Linked DNA regions of Homo sapiens: regions 2 and 3 are each linked to region 1. The links come from fine-mapping of genetic effects on gene expression. A gene starts in region 1. Each other region holds a variant in brackets. All regions are shown on one strand. Distances are between the middles of the regions.

Region 1 (10,735 bases):
ATTGGATAACACAGAAGAAATGGATGAATTCCTAGAAACATGCAACCCAAGACTGAATCAGGAAGAAACAGAAAATCTGAGTAGACCAATAATAAATAAGGAAATTGAATTGTAATAAACAATCTCCCACCAAAGGAAAGCCCAGGACCTGATGGCTTCACAGGTGAATCCCATTAAGTGCTCAAGAAGAAATACCAATCCTTCTCAAGCTCTTCCAAAAAATTATAAAACAGGGACTACCTCAGAGCTTATTTTATGAGGCCAGTATTACCCTGACACCAAAGCCAGGCAAGAACACCCCAAGAAAACTACAGGCCAATATCCCTGATGAACACAAATGCAAAGATCTTTAACAAAATACTAGCAAACTGCATTCAACAGTAAATTTAAACGATCACTCACCATAATCAAGTGGGACTTATCCCAGGGATGCAAGGATGGGTGAACATATATAAATCAATAAATATGGGCCAGGCACTGTGGCTCATGCTTGTAATCCCAGCACTTTGGGAGGCCGAGGCAGATGGATATCTTGAGCCCAGGAGTTCTAGACCAGCCTAGGAAACATGGCTAAACCTCATCTCTACAAAAATACCAAAAGCTAACATGGTGGCATGTGCCTGTGGTCCTAACTACTTGAGAGGCTGAGGTGAGAGGACAGCTTGAGCTCGATGCGGGTGGAGGTTGCAGTGAGTCAAGATCACACCACTGCACTCCAGCTTGGGTGACAGAGTAAGACTCTGTCTCAAAAATAAATAAATAAATACATTAATAAATAAATATACCATATTAACAAAATGAACGACAAAAAGCACACAAGTATCTCAGTAGATGCAGAAAAAACATTTGACAAAATCCAACACCCATTCACGCTACAAAACTCTCAAAAAATAGGCATAGAAAGAATGTACCTTAACACAATAAAGGCCATATATGACAAGCCCACAGACACCATCATGCTCGATGGTAAAAAGTTGAAAGTTTTTCCTGTAAGATTAGAAAGACAACAGTGATTCCCACTCTCACAGCTATTCAACATAGTCTGGAAGTCCTAGCTAGAGCAATTAGGCAAGAAGAAGAAATAAAAGGCATTCATATAGGAATGGAAGAAGTGTATTTCTGTTTGTTGATGACATTAGGATTCTCCTTGCACATGAAATGGGAGAAAACATTTGTAAACTGCACATTTGCTATGGGGCTAACATGAAAAATATATAAGGAATCCATACAACTCAATAGCAAGAAAACAAGTCAATTAAAAACTTGGCAAAGTATCTAAACAGACATTTTACAAAAGAAGAGACACAAATAGCCAAAAGGTAGATGGAAAAAATACTCAACATCTCTAATCATCAGGGAAATGCAAATTAAAGCCACAATGTGGTATCTCCTCATGCTTGTTAGAAGGGCTGTTACCAAAAATGATAAGAAGTGTTGGTGAGGATGTGGAGAAAAGGAAACCCTTGTATATCGTTGGTGGGAATGCAAATTGGTTTAGCCATTTTGGAAAATAGTATGGAAGTTTCCTAAAAAACTAAAAGTAGAATTACCATATGATCCAGAAATCATCCTTCTGGGTATATAACCAAATGAACTGAAGCCATTACGTTGAAGAGATATCTGCACCCTCATGTTCATTTTAGCATTGTTCATAATAGCCAAGATACAGAAGCAACCTAAGTGTCTATTAATGGATAAACGGATAAAAATGTGGTACATATACACATTGAAATAACTATACAGCCTTTTAAAAAAGGAAATTTCGTCATTAGTGACAACATGGATGGAACTGAGGAACACTGTGCTAAGTGAAATAAGCCAGAAACGTAAGAGAAATACAGTATGATCTCACGTGTGAAATCTAAAAACGCTGACCTCATAGAAATAGAGTACAGAGGTCATTACCAGAGGCTAAAGGGAAGAGAGAGAAATGAGGAAAGGGAAGAAGTGGATCAAAGGGTAAAAAGTTTCAGTTAGACTGAAGAAGTAGGTTTTAGTGATTTATTGCACTGCATGTTGACCACACATAATAATGTACTGCATATTTCAAGACTGTTAAAACAGATTTTTAACATTCTCACCACCACAAAAAATAATAAATTGGTGAGATGATGTATATGTGCTATGGTTTGAATGTTTGTCTCCTCCAAAATGCATGTTGAAACTGAATGTCTAATGTGGTAGTATTGAGAAGTGGGGCAGGCCTTGAAGAGGTGGTTGGATCAGGAGAGCTCTGTCCTCATGAATGGATTAATCTATTCATGGATTACTGGATTAAGGAGTTCATGGATTAAAGGATTATCATGGGAAGGGAACTAGTGGCTTTATCACAGGAAGAGAGACCTAAGCTAGCAAGGTAGCATACTCAGCCCCCTTACCATGTGATACTCTGTACCACCTTGGGACTCTGCAGAGTCTCCACCAACAAGAAGGCTCTCACAAGAAGTGGTCCCTTGACCTTGGATTTCTCAGCCTCCATAACTATAAGAAATACATTAATTTTCTTTATAAATTACTTAGTTTTTGGCATTCTGTTATAAATCTGTTATAACAGAAAATGAACTAATACATTAGTTTGATTATTTCTATAATGTATGGATAGATTAAAACATCACGTTGTACCCCATAAATATAAATCATTGTCAATTTAAAAAAAAAAAACAAAATGAGATATCATTATACATCTAACAGAATAGCTAAAATAAAAAACAGTGACAACATCAAATGTTGACAATGATGCAGAGTCATCATTGTCATTAACTGGATCACTCATTCACTGCTGGTGGGAATGTGTAGCTACTCTGGAAGCAGTCTGGCAACTTCCTTAAAAGTTTAGCTTGTAACTACTATATAATCCAGCAACTGTACTTCTAGGCATTTACCCCTGAGAATAAAGACAATGAAGATTTATAGCCACCCAAAAACCTGCACACAAAAGCTTATAGCAGCTTTATTCATCATATCCCAAAAGTGGAAACAACCAAGATGACCTTCAAAGGGTGGTTAAAAAAATTAAAAAATAAAAAACTGTGTGCAGGCCTACCATGGAATACTACTTAGGAATAAAGGAAAAAACTATTGACATATGCGACAACCTGAATGTACCTCTAGAGAATTATACTTAGTGGAAAAAATAAAAACACACAATGCCAAAGGGTCACACACTATATCATTCCATTTTTATAACATTCTTGAAATGATACAATTATTTAAAAAGATAGTGAACACACAGTGGTTGCTATGAGTTAAGGAAGTGGAGGAGGCAGTGGGAGGGAAGTAGGTGTGGCTATAAAAGGCCAACAAGTGGGATTCTAGTGGTGACAGGTTGTTCTGTTAGACTGCGAGCTGATTATTGTGGTGACCATTTTACAGATGAGGAAACTGAGACTCAGATGAGTTAAGTGCCAGACCTAAAGTCGCACAGGTAGTAAGCGACACAACTGGAATTCAATTTCAGGTGTCCCTTCTTATTCCAGAGTTCATGCTCCTTTTTTATACCATTGATTAACATCATTAACCAAAGGAATTTCTACTAAGCAACATTTCATTTTTTCCCCTTCTCAAATACTATTAGATGGAGCAGCTGCAAAAGCATGCAAATACATATTTCATATAACACCACAGGAAGTTTTTAAATATTCATATGCAGAACCAGAAGATAATGTGAAGTGGAACCTCGCTCCAGAATCCCTGCACCTTTCCAGTTGCGGAGTTTCCGGGTGAGGTTAGAATATCTCTAAGGTGCCCAGGCTCAGATTTTAGGCAAATATCTGTAACCTGTCTGATTGGGTAAGTTTTACATGGACCACATCTACCAATTTCATTCAGACAAATTGTGTAATGCAGTGCTTCATAAGTATGAGAAAACACAGAACCAATTAAAGACACATTTATAACATCCTCTACTACAATCTTTAAGGTAAAAAAATGCTTCATTTTGAGTCCATCTGCAAAGAACTGTATGAACAGTTTATAATAAAGAGTGGCATGAAGGTTAAGTCTGTAATCTTTGTATAAGAAATTTCCCATTTCAACTGGCCAACTGGCAAAACAGGCTGCTGTCTTTATAGCTCTCTGTTGGTCCCTGGGGATGCATCAAAATAAATAAATGTTCCCTGCCGATAGGGACAGGCTGAACGTCTGCTCATGCCTAAGAGGCCACCCAAGTTACAGAAACACGAAGAGCACTTTTTTAACAACTACTCCCAAGAATGTTACTGGAAGTCTGAAACACAATCGCAGGTGATCACAGGCTACCCCTGGCCCAAGGCTTCTAATTAGGTTTCGACCTTTTCCCATTCCAGCTGCACTTTCCATCCATAATCCTCCTACACTGTGATGTTTCCATGAAGCCCTGTATTCCCAGATTGGCTAATTCATAGACTCTCAGTGCTGCAAAGATCCTTGGTCCAACACTCTCACGCTACAAAGGAGGGTTCCACTCCTTGGCCAAATTAACTATCCGCTGCCACAGCACTGTCATGCCTTGCTTGGAATCTTCCAGGGCTTCCCACCACTGACTCCCCATCTTGGTCCCCCGCCCTAGAATCCTGGCATCCTTATTAATCTCTACATTCTAGGCAAATCAAACTATCCATTATTCTTCCCACTCAAGAGTATTGTTTTGTTTTTGTTAATACTGAACCTTCTACCCAGAATGCCCATTTCCAAGTGCCCCAAATGACTCAATCTTAAAAAATCCAAGTCGATGCCACCTTCTCCCCCTCTCTCCTCCACTCCCCAGGTCGGATTGTCTTCCTCCGATCCGCCTTCTTTAGCTTCCACAGGCATCCATCTAATGGCCCATTCACTTCCTACACCTGCCTCAGCTACTGGTCTCTGGGAAATTGTCTCTTGTGGGGCATACGCTATGGAGGGATGCTTCTTGTTTTTCTCTATACCATGCGTCCGATCTTTTGGCTTCCCTGAGCCACACTGGGAGAACTGTCTTGGGCCACACATAAAATACACTAACTCTAATGATAGCTGATGAGAAAAAAAAAAAAAGCGCAAAAAAAAAACCTCTCATAATGTTTTAAGAACATTTACAAATTTGTGTTGGGCGGCATTCAAAGCTGTCCTGGGCCGCACGCGGTTAGTGAGCCACGGGTTGGACAAGCTTGCTCTATACCTTCAGTCTCCGGTGAGAGTGCCTCGCACAAGTAACTGCGGAGCAAATGTTCATTGAATGAAGGAATGAGGAATCCAAGCCCAGAGAAAACATGAGTGACTTTTTCCAGCACGAGTCATATTAATAGTCTCGCATGCCAAAGGAATATCACCATCCAACTTTCCAAAATCCAATACGATAATAATTACTTGTATTATTATTCATATTCACTTCAGTGAGGACAGTAGGCTTAAAAAGCCTTAAACAGGTTGGGTTTCTAGTCCCAGCTCTGCCACTTAATAGCTGTGTAACCTAGGGAAGAAAGTCTCTTGCCCTGTGGACTGAGTTCCCCAGTCTGTGAAAAAGAGGAGGGTGGATAAGCTCCGTTGTTCTCTAGTCATGTCAACTTTTCCCACTTGCCAGTTGGTTAGAACACGGTTGGTTGCCGGGGCGCCTCGAGGTCCTCCCCCACTCCGCCCAGCACACCTCACTCTCAAGCCGGGGTCTTCTTCTCGCACCGGGAGGCAGCTGTGTGTGTCCTGGGGTCTCTCTTGGCCTCGCAGCTGCCGACCTTGCCGCCGGCGGCCGCGGGACGACTCCATCTGTACCCGGGAGACACCCGGGAGGCAGGCGCCAGCCATCACTCGGGGCCGTCCTCCAGGGCCAACGCCAGCACCAGCGCCGCCACGCTGAAACGGTCCCGGCGGCCCCTCCGCGGCTCTGAGACGCCCGCACGCCGGGGGGCCGACGCGCTGGGCTCGGCGTCCGGGCGCTGCCGAGCCGGCACGAGGCTCTGACCATGGGGAGCCGCCCGCTCCGCCCAGGAGGCGGGGCACAGTCGCTCCGGCTAGACCTCGCTTGGCCCCGAGCCCAGCTTCGCCCGCCCGCCCGCCCGCCCGCCGGGGAACTGCACCTTCTCGCGCCCCGACGCAGCCGCCTCCGCGCGCGCACGCAACGCACGCGCTCCAGCGCCTACGGTCAAAGCGCCGCGCAACCAGTTATTCCGCCCCCGGCTCCGCACCCGCGTCTCGGACGTTCCCGCAGCCAACGTTTAGGGCACCAGGCGCTGTGCTAGGCGCCGCGGTTATAAAGATAATCGGTTTTGTTGAGCCCAGGAATGTTCGGGTACACCCATCATGAGTACACCCACTCTTCTAGCCTAACAAAAATTCCCTTAGGGCCCAAGGAATCATGGTACCTGCACCCCAAGAAAGCCTCTGGGTCTTTGAGTCAGCAAAGTGGCGGAGGAAGGACTGGCCCTAAAACAACCTCACTGCTTACACACACCACACCACACACACACACACGCCAGATAGCCAGCAGAGACCTCCAACCACACACACACACACACACACACACACACACGCCAGATAGCCAGCACAGACCTCCAGACCCCGCCCCGCCCCCCTCCCCCGGCCCCCCTCCGCCCCCACGCGCCAAATAGCCAGCAGAGACCTCCAGGATATGGCTGTGAGTTTAAAAATAAAGCTGGGGCAGGGAGAGTATCCTTTTTCTCACTGCTAAAAAAAGAGGCCAGGAATACTAACCTAGCTAAGTAAGGAACCCTTGAAGACTAAGTGAACTTTATGGAGCGCTGCACAGGACGTTGCTTCAACCTAGTCATAACTTAGATTTTTATTCTGATGTAAATGGAATCTCAGCTAAAAGGATTTTTTCCCACTTATTTGAAGGCTAAAAAATATCTCGCTAATTTTATGTATTTTGTCATAATGGGATAACAACTACCTAAATATGCAACTTTTTTCGTAAAGCTATTGGGTTGTGTTATGAAGGTTAAGGGTGAATCTGAGTGATCTGAAACTTTGGGTCTGGATTGGCACCTTTGGAAACAGTCCACAGAAGGACATTGAAAACGTAATTATTGACAAAGTGGAAACTAGAACACTTGAGAAGTTGTAGCTTTTTTTATGCATTAATATTTTCTTACATGTTCCTTAATATATATCCAGAGTTATAAGCTGAATCAGATATGCCTTTCAATACCCTTTTAATGTCTCAAAGAGAAAGCCATAAACATGCATTTGCTTTATGTTTCTCAACTATTTCGATGGAGTCATCACTGTAGGAAGTGGTTCATGATTTTATACAGGAGAGGTATTGTGAGCATTTATAAAGCCATCCTGCTTATGAGCCAAATTTATTATGTTTGCTAGGTTAATCTGTTTTCTCTAATCAAACACTTAATCATCCAGTCTCCTCTCTGCGTTATGGATTCATGAATGTGAAGTGAGGAGAGTTGCTCAGTCAAGGTAAAATGATAAATTATCTTTTCATTTTCAGGGTATTTGTGATTAAATGCTTCATAATAGAATTAAAATGAAATAAATCTTGTAATTTCACTTCTAGATTCCTGCCAGGTATAGATAAAACGCATTTGGTTAAGAACAAATTCAATTCAATGCCTGCGTGGAATTTATAGGAGAAATGTAGAAAGCGTTGTAGTTCAGGAGAGCCCTGAGTTCTCTCTTCATTTCTATGGATTGGAGAGAGAGTTGATCAATCGGTGGTACTCTACGGATGAGCAGTGGAAAATTAAAATTTCCATTAAGAAAGAATGAGGACTTAGCCTTGGGCAGTAATAGGCAAAGTTTGTCTTAATCTAGAGTTGTAATCTGGGGCTATGATTGGAGCAGATGTTAAATTACACTTAAATAAACAGTTCCTATTATTTTGGCCATTATAAGTGAAGCCCTGTGTGGCTGGCATTCTCTGTTGCTGCCTAATTTTATAGTAAGAGTTGAAACATATTGAAAAAAGCATAATGGAGATGACTTAGTCCTGTTTGTTGTTGAGTGAATAAAGTTCACATTCCAGAAAAAGCCCTATAAGGTAACAAAAATTACAATTGGCTTTTTAACACATGGAAACTCAAACCAATTGGCATTGTGTGATATTAGACAGAGGCCTCAAACAACCCTATATGTTTTGTGCATATTTTACAATTAGCAAAGCGCTTTGATTCTGTTGTCTCATTTGATCCTCTCAGCAAACTTGTGACTGCTCAGTCCTGGCAGTTGGTGTGAGGCCTGAGATGTGGAGCTCTGTATTCCAGTTCTCCTGGGGTAGAACTGAAGTCAGGCCTCTTAGGCAAGAGCTCTTCCCCTACCCAGACTCCCTCTTTTATCAGACAGCAAAAGAAAAACCTTTTTTTTAATAGGTTTTCAAAACCACAAAAATAAAAGAGCTGCACAAATAACTGAAATATTTGCCAAGATAATGCAGAGATGGTTGGCTACGTTTTATGTGAGCTAGTAAGAGTTGAGACAATCATTCCAATAGTTCCAACCTCAGCCCCTAAAATCTATGCTGTAAAAGTAAAAGCTTTTTTCTTGACTTGAATGTCCAGGCCACCTGCCTGCTCAGACTGGATTTTTTTCCTGTACAAATTACTTAACCCTCTAATTCAATCTGCTTTGTGTATTTCTGGTCAATATCATTGCAACTGAAAATCTGTTTGCTTACAGGTTTTTCACGTACTGCACATCCAAGCTAGGTAATGTCTCTGCAACTGCTGCTTCCTGATGATTATATTCATCTGAAATGACTAAGCTTGGTAAATTAGGCTAAGTCAAGTCTGTGGAGCAGTCAAGGGACGAATGAAGAAAAGAATAATGTAATGGAGGCTACACCAGAGACATGGGAATCTATCAGCATGTGGCAAGGAAGGAAGAACATAGCTATGTCTTCTATATAAAGAGTTGCCTGCATTCTTCTCAGAAAAAAAAAGACAATGGAAAGGCAATGAGTCATGAGTCTTGGGTTCTAAGCCTGGTTCTACCATTTGCTAGCTGTATGATAAGAAGCATGTTTGTTAAACCTCTGAGCCTCAGCTTATATATATACGAAACAGGAAAAATAGTAACATAGCCTGCCATCTTCACAGATTTGTGAAAAGGTCTTTTAAATATCCAAAAAGCTTAGTATGTATAAGAAAGATTAAATTGGCTGGGCGCGGTGGCTCACGCCTGTAATCCCAGCACTTTGGGAGGCCGAGGCGGGCGGATCACAAGGTCAGGAGATCGAGACCATCTTGGCTAACACGGTGAAACCCCGTCTCTACTAAAAATACAAAAAATTAGCCGGGCGCGGTGGCGGGCGCCTGTAGTCCCAGCTACTCGGGAGGCTGAGGCAGGAGAATGGCGTGAACCTGGGAGGCGGAGCTTGCAGTGAGCCGAGATTGCGCCACTGCAATCCGGCCTGGGCTAAACAGCGGGACTCCGTCTCAAAAAAAAAAAAAAAAAAAAAAAAAAGAAAGATTAAATTTAAGCTATGGGTATGACACAAAAATATACTTGAAAATTATTCTTAAATTTCACCATATTTAGGAAGTGGCTAAATATCAACATAATATTCCTACTTCTGCATTTCCTATTTCTCTCTTTGCATTTTAAATTCAGAGGAAGTTATCTCATTTATTAATTGTAACATTTAAATAGTATACATTTCTGTCATTTAAAAGTGGTACTGACAATGTAGTTAAACCTTTATTATCTTTTATTGGTTTAATAAATAAAAGTGCATGACTAAAAACAGGCCACAAATATCAATGATTTTGGGGATTTCGCCCTACAGGAAAATCATACAATGCATTTGGAAAAAGGTAATTCTGACTTGTCCTCTACGAAATGCTAAATTTCTGCACAAAAGCTTAAAGCACAAGTGTTTACAGGATTCTTGGTGACAAGAAAAGTGATAGTAAATGTGCTTTAGCACTAAAATTCATGTATCCATGGAAACCTGTGAAGTTCTGTAAGCACACACACACGGCCTGCGGTATTTATTGAAGAGCTAAGACAGCGATCAGTGGGTTACTATGCTGTGAAAAGCCGACAGATTGCTGGGAGCTGCTATGCACAGGCATGGATGAGGTTGTTTTTCCCCTGCTAAATGTAATTACAGAGGAATTCAGAAGTCTCAGATATTACTGAGAAAAAAAAAACATGTTTATTTATTTATATGTACTTGTACCTTTCAGAATACAGTGTCCTTTTTTTACAGTGTCAGATTTTTTAGTCAGGAAAGCCTTGAAAAGTCATCAGCATTTCCCTTTCCCACACATTTGTAGCCATAGTCAAAAACTCTCTAGTAGATTTTCCATGTGTGCAAAGAAAGATATTTCTTGGATGTTAGGAGAGAATGCCCCCAGTTTTTTCCAAACTGATTATTCCTGGGTATTTAAATATGTTTCTTATCAGTGTTTCGTAACGTATAATGATTGTGAAAGCAAAGAGCATGATGATATTTGGGGGAAAGAATCGCCTACAAATATCTGAAGTGTTTATTTAACCACAGACTGATACTCTAATAAAATAAAGAAGTAATGCTATTTCATAAAGGCATATTCATATGGCATTCTTTTATTAAAACATACATCTCATCTCGTTTAATCCTTACATCAATCTCAATGAGTACTATTATGCCCACATTCTCTTCCATTGCCAAGTCCTGGATTCTTTCTCAAATCTTATTCTAAACTTTAATAACTTGGAAATGGTCTGTGTTTGGGTTGAAACAGAGGTAAAATTATTGAGTTCTTAAACGTACTTCATGTTTTATTCCCACAGTTTTCCTTTAAAGTTTTTTTTTGTGTTTGGTCTTCTAAAG
Region 2 (10,735 bases), 110 kb after region 1:
CTGGGATCTCTTTTTACCATGATTTTGAAATTGGCCTTTGATTCTTCCATGTATGTTTCTTGTTTCCTGAGGCCAGTGTCTTCCTCTTTCACAGTTATGTTCCCATTTTGCTGGAACAAATATTCCAGTAACATTGTGGGGAAGGTAATATTTTTGAGGTCTTACATATCTGAAGATGTATAATCTTTATTTGTCTTCTTACCCTTGATGGATAGTTTAGCTGCATACAAAATTTAGTTTCCCTCAGAATTTAAAGGACATTGCTCTATTTTCTTTTATATCCCAGTTTATTTTTGAAATGTTTAATGCCATTCTAATTCCTGAGCTTTTCATTAGCTCAGCCTCGAGAAATATATATATATGTGTGTGTGTGTGTGTGTGTGTGTGTGTGTTTGTGTGTGTGTGTCTGTGTGTATGCCTATGTATATATATAGTGTTGGGAACTCAGAAGACCCCTTCAATCCACAAACTTGCATTCTTTCTTCTGGGAAATTCATTGCATAATCTTGTCTTAATTTCCTCTCCTCCATTTTATGTTTGTTTTTCCTGAAACGCCTGTCATTTGGACAATGAAACCACTAATGTGATATTTTACATTTCTGATCTTTCCTCCACATTTTACATTTCTTTTTGTTCTCCTCTCTGAGAGACTTACTTAACTTTGTCTCTCAACTCTCTTTTGAATTTTTTATTTCTGCTATCAAATTTTAATTCACAAATGTTCTTTCTTATACTCTCTGTATTCCTTTTTTAGAACTTCCTTTTTTTTCCTGGATGCAATCTCTCATCCATCTCCTCTGCTTCTTTCACTCTCTGAATGTTGATGTACTCAAGACTCGGCCCTCAGATCTCTTCTTTTCTCTACCCACATTTTCTTCTTATGTAGTCTTATTTACTTCCATAGCTTTAAATATCATTTATATGTTGGTTACTCCAGCCTTTCCTAGTACACTGTATAAAATAGCTCTCCGTAACCACTGTCATCTGCCCCATCACTCTCCATTTCCTTCCTTTCCTGTATTTTCTTCATTGTTCTTATTGCTATGCAACATGGTTCTAGTATGTTGTCTATAGTATATACAATTAGCACAGTGGAGTATACATTATATAAACTCCATAAGGAAGTATATTTGTCTATTTTGTTAAATGTTATAATTCTAATACTAGAATAGAATTTGTCACCATGTTTCACAAATTTTTTTGAGTGAATAAATATCTCTGAGAATATGAAGTCAGCTTTTAAAGTGTCTCCTTTCATTTTTTAAACTGTTTCTCTTTCCTCATTTCCCTTTTGCTATAGGTTATTTAAATACAAATGTAGGCTTTTCTTTAATCCCTAGATATTTTTGGCCATTCATATAATAATAATAATTATCATCATCATCATCAAAAATACAGATTGGAAGTGATGAACATGAAGAGAATATTTATTGCCTGGTAGGCTTCACTGTAATGTGATCAGGCAGGAATTTTGCCATTTTGTTAGGAACCTCAAATGTCAGGATCTGGGTTCTTTTCTATTAGGCCAATCCATTAACCCACAACAATTTTCCATTTTATCTTCCTGGAGGTATAACTAGGGTTGCTATTCACCATGTATTCAATGCTATGACCATTGCAGTTTTCAAAATATTGACACACACAACAGAAGCCCCAGGCCCCCCATTTCATCACTGTCTAGCAATAGCAAGTATAGCTGGGAGCCAGTAGGTCTACTGGGACCCTGCTCTAGTACTATTACCAGCGTCAGTGACTATGATATACTGATTACCATGTTCCACACGTATCTAAGCCACTTCTCCATCATCCAGAAAGAGGACGGATGTTCACAGTCGCTGTGCCTATTCACCCTTCATGCTCTTATTTAAAGGGTACCCTGCTCACACTTGTCCTTTGTTAAACTTGGTGTCTCTGAGCCTAGAGCCTGTATGTTCTGTCATCTTTGAAAGGAAAACCTCCAGTATTCTAACAAGGAAGGGTAAGTATATGTTGGTTTCTAAATATCCTTTATGAAGACTTTCAACCAATCTTTTTCTAGCCCAAATCTGTACCTCTGTCTTCAAAAATTCCTAGCATCTCTCACAATAGAAACGTCTTAGAGTTTTGCAGTGTGAATAGACCGGCTTCCTGTTCATTTACTCAATCCATTCTGATTTATGTTTCAGCTTTTTCTGCCTTTCTAAGTCAGAAACTCATCCTTGTGCTTTCTAGATACCTCAAATTTAGCTATCGTTGCCTTCTTTCCAATTCTATTTGTCTGTTTAGGTTTAAACTTTAAGTTTTTTTTCTTTGCTGTCTTTTCTTATTAAATTGGGTTTCAGGAGAGAGTGGAGATAGATGAGTGTGTTCAATCCACTACCGCAACTGTAAATTTTGACCAATAAATTTCACCAACTAGATCCTAACTCAGCCATCTGTTGGTCTTATATATGAGAAATACTGCATGGCCAACATCTAAAAATAATGAACATGAATATTTCTGCTAAAAAAAATTACATTTACACACATATACACATATGCATATATTCATTTTAACTCCATAGGAGAAAGAGTTTTCCATGTCAACCTATAGATATGCCCAGGGTTCTCTTTTGAAGAGATTTGATCATCAGCTTGATTCTAAACAGATTTCATGGAATTGAACAAAGAAGGGCATGTTCTGATTCTTTTAGGGCTTGTTTAAGAGCATGAAGTCCCTGCTATTCTAAGCAATTTCTTTCTAGAATTTCTACTAAATTGTTTATATTTGGACCATTTGTTGCCAGAGAACTGCAATTCAAAATAAAAGGATATCTATGTGGTAGATATTTGTTTAGATCTTGATGTCCTGTCAATTGCATTTGCTTGATTTTCCCTTCCTTTTTAGCAAGCATGGATTTTTCTGACTGATTGAACTAAGTATAAATGAGTCCTTTTGGCCCAAAAACTAAAATAAAGCTTATTGGATTGGAAACCTAACGTACCCAGCCTTAGGAGTATGCTAGCTGCCCAGAGAAAAAGTCTTCGAATAGATTTTTAAGAATGGTATAAGAATAATTTTGAACTTCATAAACTTTTTTTAAAGACTTGAAATAAATAAACAAAAAAGTAATGGCCTTTAAAACACATGGCTGTGACAGAGTTTGAAAAAAATATATTATTAGGAAAACTCAAGAGGTGGAATATGAAAAAAATGTTACATTTTTGGCCAACCAGCATATTAACTCCTCTAACCCTATGATCAGGGGGAATTCCTACCTCATAAATTTTGAAGGGAAGCAGAGCCAGCCTTTGACTATATAAGCCAACAAGGGCATATTATAAATTTCCCAGCCTCCTTTGCAGCTAGAATATGAACACACAATCTAGGTTAGCCAATCATGTTCACCCACATGATAATTTGAATCAGGAGCCAGTGATGCAAGAACGCAGGGCTTAGGGAGAATTTATTTTATTGGCAGCAGTGGCAGGGTGTCTAGGGGCTGTATCCAGAATCTAGTAACCACAGTGAAGATGGTATTCAGTGTCATCTGTGGCCATCATGGCAGCAGCATCCTCATCAGACTTAATTCCTCCTTCCATTCTCTCTCTCTCTGTATGTATAATGAGCTCCTTTTCTGCTGAAATCAGATCGATTCAATTTCTCTTGCTTAAAACCAAAAACACTGACGAATACTAAAACACTGACTCAGCTCTAACAATCCTTTTAAATTACAAATAACATTTCCATTGGAAAGGTTGGAGTTACTCAAAAAGAAATGGAGTGAGCTATATTAGAAACTGAACTTGGAGGATTTTGAACGGGTTGGCCTATGTTTCCCTTCCTTTTGTTCTTCAGCATAAAATTCTGCATTCTTAACAATGTTCAAATTCCCTTTGTCTCAGAATATTTTACAGTCTCCATTTAGAGGGTATAGTTAGAAGTGCTTTAGCATTTTTTGTAATACTAGGGTTTGATGGACATAAGTGAAGCAATATATTCTTGGCTTCAATGTAGAAAAACCAGGAAGATTCATTTATGTTTTTTTCGGATATGATGCCAAACATCCACAAGAAGATTCACAGATCAAAATGAGACCCCCCAAAGACAGCAATCTTCAAACTGGCCATCCCTTAAGGTTGCATTTACAGGCTTGCTCTTTCTCTTTTCTGTGTCCTCAGCTGCTTGTCATGAGATGTAGATTATTGTGGTAGATAGAATAAAATGCACTGGAAAGGAATATAAAGGATATTAAAATATAGGCAATGGCTTCCGTAAATCTCTGTGAAAGCTTACTCCTTAGAGCTGTGCTTGAAACATTGAACTGCCTACTCCCATGATGCTCAGTCCACTCTAAAATTAATAAAATCTGATAAGACCATATAAACTAACTAGTCACTGGTACCCAGGGAGTTGACAACTCAACTTATTGTCTAACTGCTGTGTGTAATGAGAAGAAAGTTTAACATGTTGGCCAAGTGCACAGACTTCAGAACCAGGCACCTTGCTCATTCCTGCCTTGCCTCCTGCTAGCTGTCTGACCCAAATAACTCATTGATCTCTCTGAACTAGTTTTCTTACCTATAAAAATGTCCTTAAAAATAACCAGTTTATAGTATTTGAGTATTAATGAAAAAATATTTATGTCACTGTAAACATGCCTAACACATATTAATAGTAAGAATACACTAAATTACAGCAATCACTATTATGATCAACAGACTCACTCTTGGTCCCTAGTCTTCGGCATCTTCTATTGGTTAGGTCTCTGGCTGGCTCTCCTCATGAGTCAGCTGCAGGAATCTGTCATGCCTTATGTTTTGTGTTTTGGCAATGACTCACTTTACTACTTGGCTCTGTCGTCTACCAGTGATACACATGCTCCCTTCATTCTTAAACACGTCCAGTCCCACATGGCCGGTTTCCATTTCTATGTCAAGTAGAATCTAAGTGTTATGACAGTCTGCATTAATGGCAACAACAAACTAAAACGTGTCATTCCTGTCACTCTTCACTGGTGACAACCCTTTACTTGTGTAGCTTCTTACAAATGTCATTCATCCTATTACAGCAAAGCCAGAGAACCAATAGAAGTCCAGCCTGGACAGAGTCAGGCACTGTATCCCTATCCACATGGAAAGACTACACATTGCCATTTTTGCTTCTGGCCCATTGAACCAATCCACTTACTCAAGCATCACAAAACTTTAAGTTTCCAAGGTACACTGTAAATAACAGCCGATATGCAAATCAATTGCTTAGGGTGTCCTCTTATTTATACCCAGCTGCTTTTGTTTTGATATTACCTTCACCCGACCTCAGGCTTGGCATCCTTGGCTCCTATGGATTTGTTTTCTCTGATATTTAGTTCTCAGATTTCTCATGTTGATTTTCTTTTGGCCCACTCTCCTGGCCCTAGGCATTTCTATTAGGTAAAAATCCTCCGTTTTAGTTTAGGCTTCACAGAAAACATAATCCCTGTTTTAAGTCATAGAGTGTGTGGCAGTAAAGAACATCATTCTAGAAATTCATTTACCTAGGTTCAGCCCTATTTTTTTTCACTTTCGAGCTATG[G/TGG]CCTTGGTCAAGTGCCTTAAACCACCGGAATCTCCATATTTCATTTGAAAATTGGTGTTTATATTGCTAAAACTATCATGAGAGGATCAAATGAGATACATAAAATTTTTTAAAAGTGCTTTCTAAACTACAAGGGTATTATTAACTACTCAACAGTAAAATAAAAGATAGCTCATAAAAGGTCAGCAGGTAATAAAAGGAGCTATAATCTCCCTTGTCCAAAATAAAGATCCATTTTTCTTAAGATGCATTTCTTCAGTTAAGCCCTAAAGCCAACACTTTAAAGCAAATAAAAACAACAATCTTTAGGGTCAGAAAAATTAAAATATTTGCCACTTTTTTTCTTCACATTATCTATTATGAGCTTTTAAGCTTTTATAACTTAAAAGAAATTATTAACATGAAAATTGTAAATTACCTCTTGCCAAATTAGACTGGTGAAGATGTGGGATTTTTGTTATATTTCTGCATATAAAATACATTTTCTTCTTCTTAAGAAAACATGTTTTACAGAAGTCTTCCTTTTGTCATATCCCTGATGACACAAAGCAGAGCGGTTTCCTTCATACAGGTTGAGTAATGGGCAGGTGCAGTTCTCATGAAATGAGATTGCTTTGCTGTTGATAAAATAATACATCGGGTCACCTCATGCCTGGAAAACTTACACCAGGACTGAATAAAAGAAATGGGCCTCTATTTGCATGTGAGGAAGTTTGAGATGTGAAGGTCAACTTGTGTTCATTTAAGACTGCTATCTGATATCTGGATTTCCAAGGCAGGACCTGTGGCACACTTACAAGATGAAACTAAACCCTTCCTTCAGGAACTAAGAAAGAAAATATTTCAGTATTAACATCTGAGGTTCCCTGTAAGACACAATTCTCAAAGCCTAAGGTAAGAATTGATTCAACTGAGAATCAAAATGTCTTCTAATTATCCTGTTTGATAGAAAAACAGAGCAATTAAGGGATTGATCCAGTTACATGATGTACACACACCCAACAGTTACATAGCTAACTTGACATTCGCTGCTCAGTCCCAGAGTCTTTGTTCTTTCCAAAACCCTTTTCCACATCTCTTCAGGCAATTTGATTCATCATAAATTGTACTGTTGCCAACATTCCCTGAACATTTGCTTTTTTTTCCACTATGAAATTAACTCAGATTTAACAGATGAATGCTTGAGCTAGCTCTGCTCTGTGTACATGTGTGTTGACTGTGAAGTGGTTCTGCCACTGCTGGATGTCATCTCTAGGCACTGTGCTGCGATCCGTGTGTCCTCAATCTGGACGATGGAGGAGAGAGTGTGGGATCCTTTGGTCACAGGTCTTAGAGGCTTAACAGAGATGGCCAATCAGCTTTATCCTCCCATGCCTACTCCAACAATTGATGGTAGCTCCTGGAATGTTATGAGAGGGATTTTGAGATTGGGTCCAGACTTGGTAGGAAAAAGTGTAGTGATCAATTAGCAATGCTGACTGTGGGGCTCAGGAATAAGGAAAGCTGCACCTGTGCCATGTATTTCCCTTCCCTAGGAGCACTCAGGTCCTTGAGTGCAGCAAACCCATCTGCCTAGGGAAGCAGCATGATAATTCCTTGAGGCAGAAGGTTCAAGCCGGAAGAGGGCAAGATTTAGAATGTGAGGCATTTACATGGCACTTCACCTTTTACAAAGTGTTTTCCCCCACATTATTTCCTCCCATCCCTACCCATGGGGCAGATGTCAATTTTATCTTCATTTTGCAGCAGAGGGATTTAAAGCTAAGGGAATAAAAATGGTAGCCTAAGGTCCCACATGGGTCATAAATGTCAGACTCACTACCTAAACCAGACTTCCTGCTTCTAAGTCTTGTGCTGGAGGGTAGTGAGTCAATCAAGCACTAAGTTTCCCCTAGAGTCAAAGGATGAGGCCGAACATTTGGAATGGATTTGTGTAGCCTGTGAAGCACATCTGGATTTCAACACAGAAGCACAGCACACACACTCAAATCAAGTACGGGCACACTCATCCTTTTTTTCTTCCTTTTCAGGCAGGCTTCTTTGTGAAAGCATTAGAATGGTTGTCATCACACACACATAGAAGAGGCAAAGAGTTGTTGCTAAATAAAATATAATGCACCTTATTTAAAATGGCTTATCCTGCTTTATTTGTAAATTGATGTTAATCCGACTACTTAGTCTGATATCCTTAAGCAACATTAATGCCTTTGCTACCTGTCTTCTGCAGCATAAAAAATGAGGTGGCTGTTTTGGAAAGAATTAACTTCTTTCTTGAGGGCAAAAGGCTAAACTCCTTCCTGAAGATTCTTGCCAATGATTCTAATTAGGACATACAGATGTATGTACCTAATGCAAATGAAGCCATGGACCACAGAAGTTTAATGATTTGGGGGAAAGTTTGGGTACAATAAACTCCCTTCACAATTTTGCACCAATGTCACCCAAAACTCTTGCTCTTTTGAAATAAAGAAGATATTAAGAATTTCCCCATTTCCAAAGCTTAGGATCATATGTAGGAGAATGGCTAAAACTTACATGAGCAATTTTTAACGTTCACAGTGATTTTGCCTGTATTAAATCTCAGTATCAAAATAGTCTATGAGATAAATATCATTTTTTCTCACTTTTCAGGTGAGAGAACCAATGTACATAGAAGCAAAGGAATGACTTGTCCTACGAAAAATAGCCAATTTAAAATTCAAATCTGGCATTCTTCCCCCTGTTGTTTCACTTATAGCAACCTCTCCACAGAAGTAAATACCACCTTACATGTGTATAGCACTTCACAGTTTATAAATTCTTGTCATTCAAATATTTTAATTCATGGATTTGCTACTTTAATTCAAATGTTTATTCACCATCTACAATGTACCTGCCAGACATTATTTTAGGTACAAGTGGTATAAGGTCTCTGCTGTATTCGTGTTTATATTATTAGTTGGAGGGAGACAACTAAAGAACAAGTAAGCAAACAAATTAGAATAAATTCAAATGGTGATAATTAGTACCAAGAAAATAAAACAGGATAATGTGGTGGTCTATGACCAGTTGGTGGTAGGAATGAAATGTACCAGTGTGAAACATTTGGTGGGGTGAATAGAAAAACCTTCTTTGAATAAAAGATGTTATATGAGCTGAGAGCAAGATGGGAAAGAGAAAGCAGAGGGTGTTAGGGGGAAAGCATTTCAGTCCCGATGTGGGAGAGAGGTTGATATTTGAGCACTAGAAAGAAGGCCTGTGTAACAGGAAGTGAATGAGCAAAGGGAGAGAAACACAAGAGGAGACTGAAGAGATAAGCACAGGCTATGACAGAAGGGTCTTTTAGGTCATTTGTTAGAATTACACCCCAATTTTTATGGAATGACTTTGCAGAGTTTTTAGAAAATTTAATTCCCACAATAATCTGTTATGTTTGTTTAACAAATTAGAAAACTTGGAGATTTACCTAAGGATACACAACTAATAAACAGCAAGACTCCAGTCTTTAGGATCCTAGACTAGGCTTACTTCCTCATATCCGAAAGGAAAAAATGGAAACAAACTCACAAAGGAGGAATACAGTACAGCATCACGTGACTATCCCATGCGTATAATGGGTGAATTTCCTCGGGCAGACAGAGGGCTCACTTATTATGGGAAGTCTTATGACTGTTTGGCTCCAGCTGGAAGGAGATACTAAATTTCTGAAGGACTTTTGGCTTAAATTTAAGACAAATATTTTATTAGAGTTACCATTGAATATTTAGCATTATTGAATTTCTCCCAGAGTCTAATTTGTTTGACAGATTGTTTTGGGAAAGTAGCCAGTGAATGCCCAAGACTAGGGGATGAAGAACAATCACAATCATCAAGCAACAAGCTTTGCGTTACTTCTCTTTCCACCTTTGCCTCCCACTCCACACTGCTGATCAATGGGTGGTAACCCATGCATGTGGCTAAGATAGAAATAGTCCTTCCAGCACATAACCTGAAATCCAGCTCATTCATTCATCACCCATAATATCACTGCAGCCCATCCTTCCGTCTACCTCTTCAAGGCAAATTGCTTGAGATTAATCATTCATTCATTCATTCATTCATTCATTCAGAGCATCTACTGTGTTATGGACTGAGTTCTTGTGAGGTGTTGGGTATGTGAATGTCATGCAGTCTGAGACCTTACAGCTTTCACAACCCAGTGGTCTCTCAGACTTACCACCTCTTATGACTCCTTTTGTTCTCATTGTTCCCTTTAACTTGAGTCCACCTGCACAAAAGTATTACAGTTGAAGAAAAAGTTGCTTTGGACATTACCCTATCCTCCTAAGAATGTTACTAGCTGCCATTCAAGCTTTATGACCCTCATAGGCATCAGGGAAAGAATACAGATATGGCCCTTAATTGTCTGATTTCTGTGTGCTAAGGAACAGCCTGTACTTATTATCTTCCATTATTTTTAGCTAATACCCCCACATCCTCATTTTCGAAAATCTTTCCTCTAAAATTGGTTTCCCTTCTTTGTCTTGCCTAACCTGCTTCCCAGCACCTCTGTGGCTTTTGTCCAGAAGAGGGCGAGATCACCTTTGCTACTTAGAATTCATCTCGCTCTTTTTTTTATTTTTGCAATTAAATATGATTCATTGGTCTCTTGGTCGCTTAGCTTTCTCTCCTGAAGGAGAAAGTCAAAGTCCTTGATATTTCTCCAACAAAATTTATATTATGGGTATTTGTATTGCATTATGTGATTTTTAAGAGGACTAGCAAGAAGCTCTAAAATGGCGAATAATGAATTATAGCTGAATAGGAGAAACCTGTGAACAGTTAGGACTGATGATCACTGTAACCTTTCCCATGCTTGTGCAATTATGTTTTGCTAATATATAGACTCTTAGAATGCTATATTTCAGGGAACCTTAGAAATTATCTGGAAATGTCATCATGCTGTGTTAAGGAAACTGAGGCATAGAGAAAAAATAACTTACCTGCTAGAACTACTATGACTTTAAACTGCAGAAAAAGATAATCATTCCATATACATAAAAAATTTAATAAGGGGATGCTTGTAAGAATATTATCCGGGCTTATCATTCTCAGCAAAGGAACACAGCAACAGAAAACCAAACACCACATGTTCTCACTCATAAGTGGGAGTTGAACAATGAGAACACATGGACACAGGGAGGGGAACTTCATACAACGGGGCCTCTAGTGGGGTGGGGAACA
Region 3 (10,735 bases), 160 kb before region 1:
TCAGATAAATTCCTAGAAGTGGATTTGAATTTTTAACTTTGAGAACACTGTCCTCTATGGAACTGTTTCAGTTTTTACTCCCACTAACGTATGAGGCAATGCATAAGTCAGTGCCAGATACAATGGGATGCCCTTGGCACTTTTTCATTCATTAATTCACCCATTGATTCACTCATTCACCATACATATATATCAGGCATGTGCCTGGAAGGGGTTGGGGAAGACACAGAGAAAATGGGCAAAGGGACAGGTCATGACAAGCTTGATTTCAGCTCCATTTGCTCCTTTGGCAAGGGCCCTTGTGAGGGCACACTGTGCAGCTGGATGCACAGTCCTGAGGGTGAAGCCCTGAGCCAGTGCTAAAGGCAGGGCTTGGCTGGGGAGAGACGGGACACCAGGGAGAAGAGGGCAATGCTGCCCAGTTGTGAAGGTTTGACATGGGTACCATCAGGCCTCCTGGGGATAAAGCCACATTCCTGCCTCCCTTTTGAAAACAAAACAAAGCAAGCAAACAAAGAGTGATTTTCCTCTTCTTTTCTAATTGCAAAGTGACCAAAGTTATTTTAGGAAATTTAGAAATCATAGAGAAACACACACACATCACAAGAAGAAAAAAAGATAAAAGAAGAAAAGCAACACTCATAACCCCCCCAAATCATTAGGATCATAAGTATAACCTTTCCGTACTTTTTCTGTGCATACAAGCATAGAAATTTTTTATATATATAAGATATATGTAATATACACACATATATATTACATATGAGATTTATAACCTAGGAAAATATATGCTGTGAACATGTGAGCATGTTTCCAGCATCTGCGTGTCTTCAGACTAACTGTGCTTCATCATCTCCCGCCAGCTGCTCTGCACTCCCGTCCTGTGGAGGGCCTCCATTGTCATCATGCTCAGCTTGAATTTCATTGTGTCCCTTGTGGCCGAGGTAAGTGTGCTGATCTTGGGCTGCTGATCTTGTGTGTGTGCACGCATGTGTGTAGGGGGACTTCTTTGGGACTCTGAAAACAACAACTTTAGCTGACATGGACTCAGCAGTGCAGGGGCTCCCTTCCTTCACAGTATAAGCAATGGTGCCTTCCTCTGATGAGTCCCAAGCAGGACGTTAGTTTTCTCATCTGTCAAGTAGGGCGGGGGAGAATGGAATTATGGTCTCTAAGGTCCTGTTCATTTCTACAATTTCCAAATAAAGACCCAACACAATTTACTTTTTAAAATTGAGATATGATTCACGCACCATAACATTCACCCTTTTAAAGTCCACAATTCAGTAGTGTTTAGTGCACTCACTGAGTTGTACAGCCATTAACGCTACTTAATTGCAGGACATTTTCATCATCGCTAAAGAAATCCTGTACCTACTAGCCGTTGCTCTTCATTGCCCCTTCTGCCTTCTCCTGGGCCTTGGTAATCACTATTCTACTTTCTGACTGTGTGGATTTGACTTTTCTGGACATTTCATATAAGTGAAACCATACAATATGTGGCCTTTTGTGTGTGGCTTCTTTCACTTAACTCATATCATTTTTGCCTTGCGGATGGGAAATAACATTCATAGTGAGCTTTTCCGGCTTTCATTCTCCAGCTTCCATTTGCTCCATTTTCTAGCTTTTATTCTTCAGCTCCCCTGTGCTCCATTTCCTCAGTGAAATGAGCTTGTGCTCCTGCTTTCTTTCTCCACGTGATTCACGCTCTCCCTGCTCAGTACTACCAGACACAATATCCATTCTTCAAAGCCTGTTGGTAGGCAGGGGTGCCCTGAAAAGGCATTTATGAACAAAGGAGAGGTGAGATGCAGAATTCCATCTGTCTCTATTTCTGCTCTGGGATACAGAACTAGAATTATTCCTGCAAATGGAGTGTTCATGGTGAGCTGTGAGAACCTACAGCCTGACTTCCCTGCAGTATTGTGTAGGCAGGACCTCAATGAGCTCTCCCTGCTTACTCCTATGCAGAGTGAAGGCTGCACAGGAGCTGGTGGCAGAACAGGACACAGAATTTCAGTACTGGAACTTCTCTCTATATGCTAAACAAGAGCTTCTCAAACTTGAGTGGGCATCAGAATCACCTGGGAGGCTTATTAAAACACACGTTGCCCAGCCCTACCCGCAGTGTGTCTGATTCAGTAGGCCTGGAAGAAGTGCAAAAGTTAGCATTTCTAACAGGTTGTCAGGGGATTCTGATGAGACTAGTTCAGGGATCACACTTTGAGAAGCAATATGCTAAACCATATGGTCTCTAAAGCAACCAGATTAATAAAAGAGCATTATCACGGGTGTCCTCAGACCCAGTGGCAGAATGATGGTCTTTGCCCTTTAGAGGGGGATCTAGTGTATACATCTTATCCCTGTTCGTGATCACAGGATTCTCTCTGTGTGGTGTATGTTTCCTCCATTTCCGCATATTAAAGTGCTATTCCATCCTCTACAGCACAGCTGTAGTAGTATCCTCTTCATGTATCTTTCCTGATCTCTGGATCAGGTAGGCAAGTAACGACTTAACTAACAGTGGCTTAAATAATAAAGATGTTTATTGACTCAAGAAGAAGACTGAAGGTAGGTGGCTTCAGGACTGGCTTAGTAACTCAGTAGTGTCACTGGGAATCCACACTCTTTCACCTTTCTCTTCTACTCTCCTTCGATGTGGTCTTTCATGTTTGTGCACGTGATTATGGTGTCCAGATAGCTTCCACAGAGCCGGACTTTACATCTGTTTTCAGTGCAGGAAGAAAATGGAAGGAGAGGCCACAGCAAGCCTATTTCCAGCAAGTCTGAACCTTTTCTTGAGAAACAAACTTTTCCTGAAGCTCACCAGCAGACTTCCTTTTATGCTTTATCGATTACACTTGTGTCTCATGGTCATCATGAGTAGAAAAAGATTCTGGGAAAGTGGATCCATGTCAAAAGTTAGACAATTTGGCTTAGACCACTTATTATCATTATTTTTCCCTTTTAGGTGGGAAGGGAAGAGTTGGGAGGGAATGGGCTGTATGGTAATGAAGTATCAAAGTCTTCCTTAATCCTCTAGCAGGAAGTTCTTCCTTTTTCAGCATATTTGCAGTTAAGAGCACAAGCTCGGGGTAATCTACGTGGGTGGGTTCGAATCCTGGCTCCACCACTTTCTTGCTCTCTGACTTTGGGCAAATTATTCCACTTATCTAATCTCTGATCAGCCCTGAAAACAAACAGGTTTGAGCAGGACCTTATCCTTACTATGCCAGTGCTCATGATCGAACCTCCAGCTGAGAGGCATGAGAGGTAGTGTGGATAGCTTTAATTGCCCCCACCTTTAAAACAATTATTGATGTGTTTATATAGGTATGCTTGTATGTATGAGTTATTTGAGTAGCCAGTCAGAAGCGCTCATGTGGCGAAATTTTTTTAAAGAAATGTCTCACTAAGGCTTTCGTTTTTTTCTAGTTGTATTTTAGTCCATTCTCCCACTGCTGTGAACAAATACCTGAAACGGGGTAATTTATGAAGGAAAGAGGTTTAATTGGCTCATGGTTTTGCAGGCTGTACCAGAAGCATGGCTGGAGAGGCCCCAAGAAACTTTCAATCATGGCGGAAAGCAAAGGGGAAGCAGGCAGGTCTTACATGGCCCGAGCAGGAGGAAGAGAGAGAAGGGGAAGGTGCTACACACTTTTAAACAATCAGATCTCATGAGAACTCACTCACTATCACGAAAACAGCAAGAAGGAAATCCATCCCTACGACCCAGTCACCTCCCATCCAGCCCTTCCTGCAACATTGGGGATTATATTTCAGCACGAGATTTGGATGGAAATACAAATTCAGATCATGTCACTAGTTCTGCCTTGTATTTATAATGTGCGGTAACAGGACAGATCACCTCTCTGTAGTTTCCTCTTCCAGAGCAGCAAGGTGATACAGGTCATCAGAGTCCAGAACTAAAAAACACTGAAGGCAAGATGTAGAGATGGAGAGCACCAAAGTTTCTCTCTCTGTGTGTGTGTGTGTGTGGTTTCATCTATTTTGTTTTAAGGTTTGCTAAGGTTTCCTTGAAGTAAGTAAGATTTTAAAACCTTTACTCGATGCTCCTGCCTTATCCCAGCTCTAAGAAGAACTACTGTTTTCACGTCAATTAAGGAGGACAAAAAAACCTTGCTGCAGGAAAGTAGAATAACTCATCTGGCTAAGTTTCCAAGAGGCTGAGACGGTTATATGGATCTTTAACAGCCCCGCAGCCAGCAGATGGTCAGTTATCACAGGAATAATGCAGACTGGCTGTTCTCTATCCTTTCATGGGCAGTGGAACCTAAATGGCAAAAATGGGTAGATTTTAGGAAAACTACTATATCTGGCAAAGTTCCTTATAGAATCTCACAGAATTAACTCTTTCAAATTAGCAAAGATAGACATGAAAATCAGTTCTAATTCTGTGGGACAGTTTCACGTCCCATATTTTTTCTTTGTTTCTTTCACAATAACCTCTAAGATGGTCAATCTTTGTGAGCAAACATGATAAAAGTGGAAAATTAATATGATAACCTCTCATGAATTATAAGTTATAACTTGGGCTCTATTCAAGGCTCACTCTAACTCATGAAATAAAATGGCATTGCAAAATGTTTTCAAAGAGACATGTCTTTTGTAATCTTAATACTGTATTTCAGTGAAGGTGAAGGTTAGAGGCATGTGTGAACAGGACCACAGTGCATAGCCATTTGTTAAATGAGTAGTTCCAAAGGGTAGGCAAAGGGAGAGAGCTATGCCCTGCCCTGCCCTGCATTGTAAAGGGAGTTATATAAGCCTTACAACAAACATAAGGAAGGGATTATTCTAATCACGGAGACATGGATAGAGTAACTAATTTGCCCATAATAGGTGTCAGAACTGGGACCTAAATCCAGATCTGTTCAACTCCAAGACTGGCCCGTGTGAAATTAAATATGCAGTGATATGTCAGGATATATCAAAAACATGTCATACATGGGCCACATCTTTATATAGGGTCAATTGTGTTTAGTATTTAGTAGTAATTTTAATGTCATTTTATATTAAACAAAATATAGATGTGCTATAGAGTGAAACATAGAATTTGAATGATTTTAAATTCAATTTAGATGTGAGATTCAAAAGAAACTTCATTTTTGAGGCAAGCCATTTCAAGTTATGTTCCCAGAGTCTTGAAATGTTGTACCTCTTACTTCTCCCACAGGAGTTACTTAAGTAGAAACGTTTGAGAAACCAATACCTGTCCAATGAAACCACCTTAGATTGGTCCAGTGGTCAAGCTCTTTGTCAAGCTGGATCTAAGCAACCATTGCAGTAGTGACTTAT[G/A]ATGGCCTGTGGAGGGCTGTAGCCTCAAAACACTCAACCCTTGCTTGTAAAAAGTAATTATTTTATTTTGCAGGAGGCTGTTATTGAAAATCGAGCCCTGTGGATGATGATTAAAAGATGTTTCGGCTATCAGTCAAAAAGCCAGTATCGGATATGGCAGAGGGACTTGGCAAATGACCCTAGTTGGCCCCCGCTAAACCAAACCTCCCACTCTGACATGCCGGAGTGTGGCAGAGGAGTGTCTTACAGCAATCCAGTATTTGAGAGCAATGAAGAACAACTCTGAAGGACATGTGATATCCAAGTTGATATTACAGAGAAACAATGACAAAAGGGACCAGTTTCATTGATTTTAAGAAATGAGACTCTTGTAACATCAGCTGGAGTTTTGGGGCTACCTATCAAATCATGGTGACAAACTAAAGTCTGTTTGATAAAATACTGTCTACAGAGAAGAACATTGACCCAGAAGAGTGCTTTCCTCTTGGCTTCTGAAGGTATTAGAGGCATTCAGTGAAGGCAAGAATGGGCCAAGAATTTCTATGGGCCAAGAGACAAGCAGGCTAAAGGGGAAAAATATGTGATCTTTCCTCTTAGGACAGGACAATACTTTCCTTTTTATAAAAATGAGTTGAGGGGAAGTAGTACTGTGTATACTCACGGAGTTGTAATTTTTGAATTTTTACTTCATCGATGGAAAAACTAATGCGTGGGAAACATTACACCAATCTTTACTGTCTGGGTTCCTTTTCTCTGTAGTACTTTTCAGATTTGAGGCTTTTTCTTCTGTTTCTGGCCTTACCCAACATATTGTTAAGGATAAGCTTAGCCTATGCTGCAATAAAAAACAACTCTCAGATATCAGTGCCTTAACACACAAGTGCTTCTTTCGTGATCCAGGTGACACTCTGGAACTGCCATTCTTACAGCAGTGACTGCTTCAACCTGATGGCTCCATCAGCTCGATGCAAGGACTGTGTGTTGACTGTGATGGGGGAAGGAATAGACTGGAGATCACGTGTGGGCTCTTCACTGCCTCACCCCAAAAGTGGCACACATTGCTTTCCCTACTCATATCTCATTAGTCAAGGATTTGGCCAGGGAGCTGGAAAGTGCAGTCTCCTGTGTTTAGGGATGCTTCATGGGCTTATGAGCTGTCACTACACAGGGCCCCATGCTTAGAAGGTCCCCACACTTGGCTTTAACACTCTGCTGTTTCCATCTTAAAATTCTTAATTTTTGAACAGGGGTCCCCATATTTTCATTTTGTACCAGGCCCCACAAATGATAGAGTTGGTCTGGAACGTAGTCCTGGGAAGGAGAGGAAAATAACAGATCAGAAAGCACGAGTGCTGTCCACTACAGCCCACTTTTCCTAACCCCAGTAACTTATCCTATGTTTTAGGAATCTCTCATGTCACATGGCCAACTCCAGAAATTTTCACTCCTCTGCTTTATTATTTTTGAGAAACATTAGTCTCATGCTACAGCATTATATGGCACTATTGATGGGAGTTCTTACACAACTAGTACATTTTTTTTTTAAAGTTTGTGGCTTGAGTTTCCAGAAAACTAAAATTGTCCTTATTTTGTCACTATTACAATTTGGTTATATTTGATTTGTTCAGCACAAGGAAGACTCAGGTTTCTGTTACCTCAGGAGACAACACTGAACTCTAGGAGCACACCTACATATAATATTTTAAGGCAAAAGCAAAATTTGTATTATGAGCATCAAATCCTAGGTGAATGTTCTGATCAGGGGATAAGTGTCCTGGCCCAGGCTGGCTTTGGAACTTATCAATAGCATTTGCAAGCATTCCTTCCCCCTAACTGAGCTCTTGAGCATGGCTGATGGCTCTATGATTGCAGCTGATTCTAGGAACATGGTGTCTCCCAGCCATGAGGGTACCCTGTTACTTCTGGTTTTAAAATAGGGCGTGAAGATATTTTAGTGTTTCAAGACTGCAGAATCACTGTCTTTTTTGGTACAGAAAGAAATGTTTCCTTTTGCAAAGCCAGCCTCAGCAATGATATGGCAGTTCTGAATGTCCTTCTCTAAAAGTGTTTCTCATTTTCCAAAAGTAGAGGGTTGTAGGCAGGGGCAAGCTAGAGATGGTCTGTGACCTAGTCATGAGCAAGATCAGCCTGCACAGTTCATACTTAAATGTGCCCTTTGCTAAGTGCATTCACCTCCACTAACTCACCTGAATGGTACCAATTGTCCCATGACTGAACAAGGAAGGGCTTATCATCTCCACCATACAGATGAGAAAGCTGAGATTCAGTAATGGCAAGAGCAGATCTAGGCCTCAAATACAGATCTTCTGAGCAAACCTTATATTGCTGCCAAATACTTCCAAATTCCAGAGTTCCAGCAGGGCAGGTTGCTTAGTGTGATCTCACAGTCAAGCAAAGAATGGGCAACCCTTTGCTAATACCAGGCCCTCTGTTCAAATGAATGCCAGGCATCCTGCCAGGCCTGGGCTAGAGGTGTATTAAAAACAAAACAAAACAAAACAAAAAAATGATTGTCTGTCTTTCTGAGACTTTGAGTTGCTCTTGCCTTGATCCTAAGTGATTCTATCACTAGCAAAGGCTGGCAGGGAACAGGAAGAAAAGAATCTAGTCCTCCACTAGTCAAGCAGCCATAAAATCTTTGGGAAAAGAGACTCATTTTGAAGACTGTATTCCTGGGATTAACTACATCTTAGAAGCAGTAATTGAAGGAACAGGGAGTGCCCAGCCTGGAAAGAAAACAGTCAGGGGACTGTGAAGGGTTTTCCTGAGAAAGAAGGATCCTACTTGTGCCAGGTGGCATGAGAAGGCAAAATCAGGACAAATGGGTAAAGATCACAGTGGGGATGGCTTCAGGCCATCTGCCCTAACCACTGTCCTAACAGCCAGCACTGATAGCAGTGGAATGTACTCTAGGACATTGGAGGAACAAGTGGCTATTCAAGGGCCAAGTAGAGAAGGAAGTCAAGTATCAGATGAAACTCAATTACCTGCAAGATCTCTTTCAAGCTTGATACACCCAGTGTCTCAGTCTTATGCTGTGATGTGAACCTTTTTTTTTTTTTTTTTTTTTTGAGATGGAGTCTCACTCTGTTGCCCAGGCTAGAGTGCAGTGGCACAATCTCGGCTCACTGCCAGCTCCGCCTCCCGGATTCACACCATTCTCCTGCCTCAGCCTCCCAAGTAGCTGGGACTACAGGTCTGCCACCATGCCCGGCTAATTTTTTGTATTTTTAGTAGAGATGGGGTTTCATCATGTTAGCCAGGGTGGTTTCAATCTCCTGACCTCGTGATCCGCCCGCCTCGGCCTCCCAAAGTGCCGGGATTACAGACATGAGCCACCAGATGTGAACTATTTTCTACTACTACCCACACAGAATACCAGACAGACACTCATGGGAGGATGGGCTCTGGAGGGAGGGCTCCCAGCCTTGTCAGATCCGATTGTGTGGACATATAGACTCAATTGCCCTGTACCTTGAAAGGGGACCCCTAATGGAGATAAGATCCTAGGAAAGAGGGGCAGAGTAGGGGTCCTGATTGTCAGATTGAAGCTGGGGTAATACTTCTGATTTGTGAATTTTCTTAAAGAGAGGTGTTAAAAAACTTTGCATGAAAGAGCGTGGGAGAGTGCCCTAAACTTGAGGGCGGAGCAACCTGTTATCAATACACTTTCTTGAGCAGAGTCTGAAGGAGAAACGAACACAGTCACATAGTCCAAATCATTTGAGACGGTGCCCTGTATGTTCATCTCAAGGCATCTAGCTCTTACCCACAGAGAACCGTGACTCTGGGCTTCCCTCACTAAATATGTCTGTGACATCTGTATCCTTATGTGCTTATGGAAATGTTCACATACACACCTGCAGATGTGATGACTGAAAAAAACGATTATTTATTCAGAGCTTTGTATTTAGTTTATGCTATAATAAATTCAGTTGTTATAAAAATCAGTCTCTCTCTCTGCGGTGGAGTCTTTCATTCTGTCTAATGGTGTGGTTTACTCCAGTAATGTTGAATCAAACAACATCTTTACAAAGTTCCAGGCATTTTCTAACACCACAGATGCTATTATTCTCTGCTTTATACACAGGGCATTAGAGTTTACAAAATACTTTCATCCTTGTTCTCTCATTTAAGCCTCGTTAACAACCTTAGGAGGAAAGAAAGGCAAGGATTACTGTCTCTCTTCTTTTGATGAGGTACAAGGCTCTCCAGATGTCTCAGCAACCAGGACACATGGCCCATGGATGGAGGAGCTGGATTCAGATGCAGGTCCTTTATCAGCGAGATCCCTGCTGTGTCACTCTCCTATGTTGTTTTTCCTGAATGAAAAAAGAAGAGAAAAACCGTAGCATTGAAAAACAAGACGACAGCGAGGCAAATGTCCAATGTAATTGCCATAATGAGCACAGTTTCTTCCAGAAAGAGATTTTGGTGTTTCATGGAAGTTCTCTTGAACCTGACCATCAATCACAGAAAAGGCCAACTCCCACAGCTGAGGGAGGAAAATCATAACACCAGAGCCCTGTGAGCCCATTTCATGTGATTGGATAAAGCTCTGGTTTCTGACTTCAGTCTCCAGAAACAGAAAACTATATCCCTGCTTGATCTTTATTCAGACTTGCTTGGCACAGCTTTTCAGGTTCCTATAGATTTTCTTTTGGCTTTGAACTGTGCTCACTTCTCTATGCATAAACATTTGGAAAACTGCTGCCCTATAACATTCTGTCTGCCCTTTGGTTTCCATTAGACTTGTTAACAATGGCCTTTAAACTTTATTAGTAAAGTGAGTTTCTCCAAAATTAAACAAAGATAAAATTAACAACAAAACACAACTCTCCCGGAGTTGATGAAAGAGCCTTAGGAGTGAGCCACATGGCTTTGTCAAACACTCTGAGCTTGCTCTATCCTCAGGAAGACTGCATTTGCCATCCTCTCTGCCTTGAATGCTGCCCGCCACCAACCCCCTGTTGCCATTCCTGATTCCTTCTCCTTCAGATTTCAGCTCACTTGTCACTTCTTCCAAGAAGCCTTCCCTGACCACTCTGTCTAATGTTGCTCTTGCTCTACTACCGTGGTTTGTTTTCTGCATAATGCCTGTGCCACCCTTCAGATGACCAAGGCTGAACGAGTACTACTTGTTCAAGAACCCATAATGGGGAAATGAATGAGCTGAGTCTATAATCTAGACCTACTGACTTCCAAATCAAGGTTCTTTACATTTTTCACATCTAGCCAGATTCTGCTAATTAAATTAGCTAATCTGTCAGGGAAAAGAATGCAGGATGCTGCAGAGCATTGTCCATGGTTGGATGAAAAGCACTCAAAGAGTCATCCAGACTCTCCCAGCTCTTTTCCTTGCTGTCTTGACTTCGAAGTGTTTCAATGCCAAGAA

What was found.
Region 2: its variant is fine-mapped to the expression of PLAAT1 in anterior cingulate cortex (GTEx, PIP 0.99).
Region 3: its variant is fine-mapped to the expression of PLAAT1 in whole blood (INTERVAL, PIP above 0.99).

Annotation. Positions count from the first base shown.
Region 1 is chr3:193,236,395-193,247,129 of GRCh38, reverse strand. It overlaps PLAAT1 (phospholipase A and acyltransferase 1), which reads right to left and starts at 5,908. Exons shown (of 4, transcript NM_020386.5): 1 at 5,597-5,908. It overlaps MGC2889 (a long non-coding RNA gene), which reads right to left and starts at 5,351. Exons shown (of 1, transcript NR_026877.1): 1 at 3,158-5,351. It overlaps LOC105374280 (a long non-coding RNA gene), which reads left to right and starts at 6,107. Exons shown (of 3, transcript XR_924833.3): 1 at 6,107-6,235; 2 at 7,285-7,380; 3 at 8,596-10,462. RefSeq lists a silencer at 5,757-6,006.
Region 2 is chr3:193,129,146-193,139,880 of GRCh38, reverse strand. No RefSeq gene overlaps it. Among named protein-coding and RNA genes, the nearest start is that of PLAAT1, 110 kb to the left of the region's middle. The variant G/TGG (reference allele first, on the strand shown) is at 5,534.
Region 3 is chr3:193,397,522-193,408,256 of GRCh38, reverse strand. ATP13A4 (ATPase 13A4) reads left to right here. Exons shown (of 30, transcript NM_032279.4): 29 at 864-944; 30 at 5,393-9,290. The coding sequence ends at 5,605. Among named protein-coding and RNA genes, the nearest start is that of ATP13A5, 24 kb to the right of the region's middle. The variant G/A (reference allele first, on the strand shown) is at 5,320.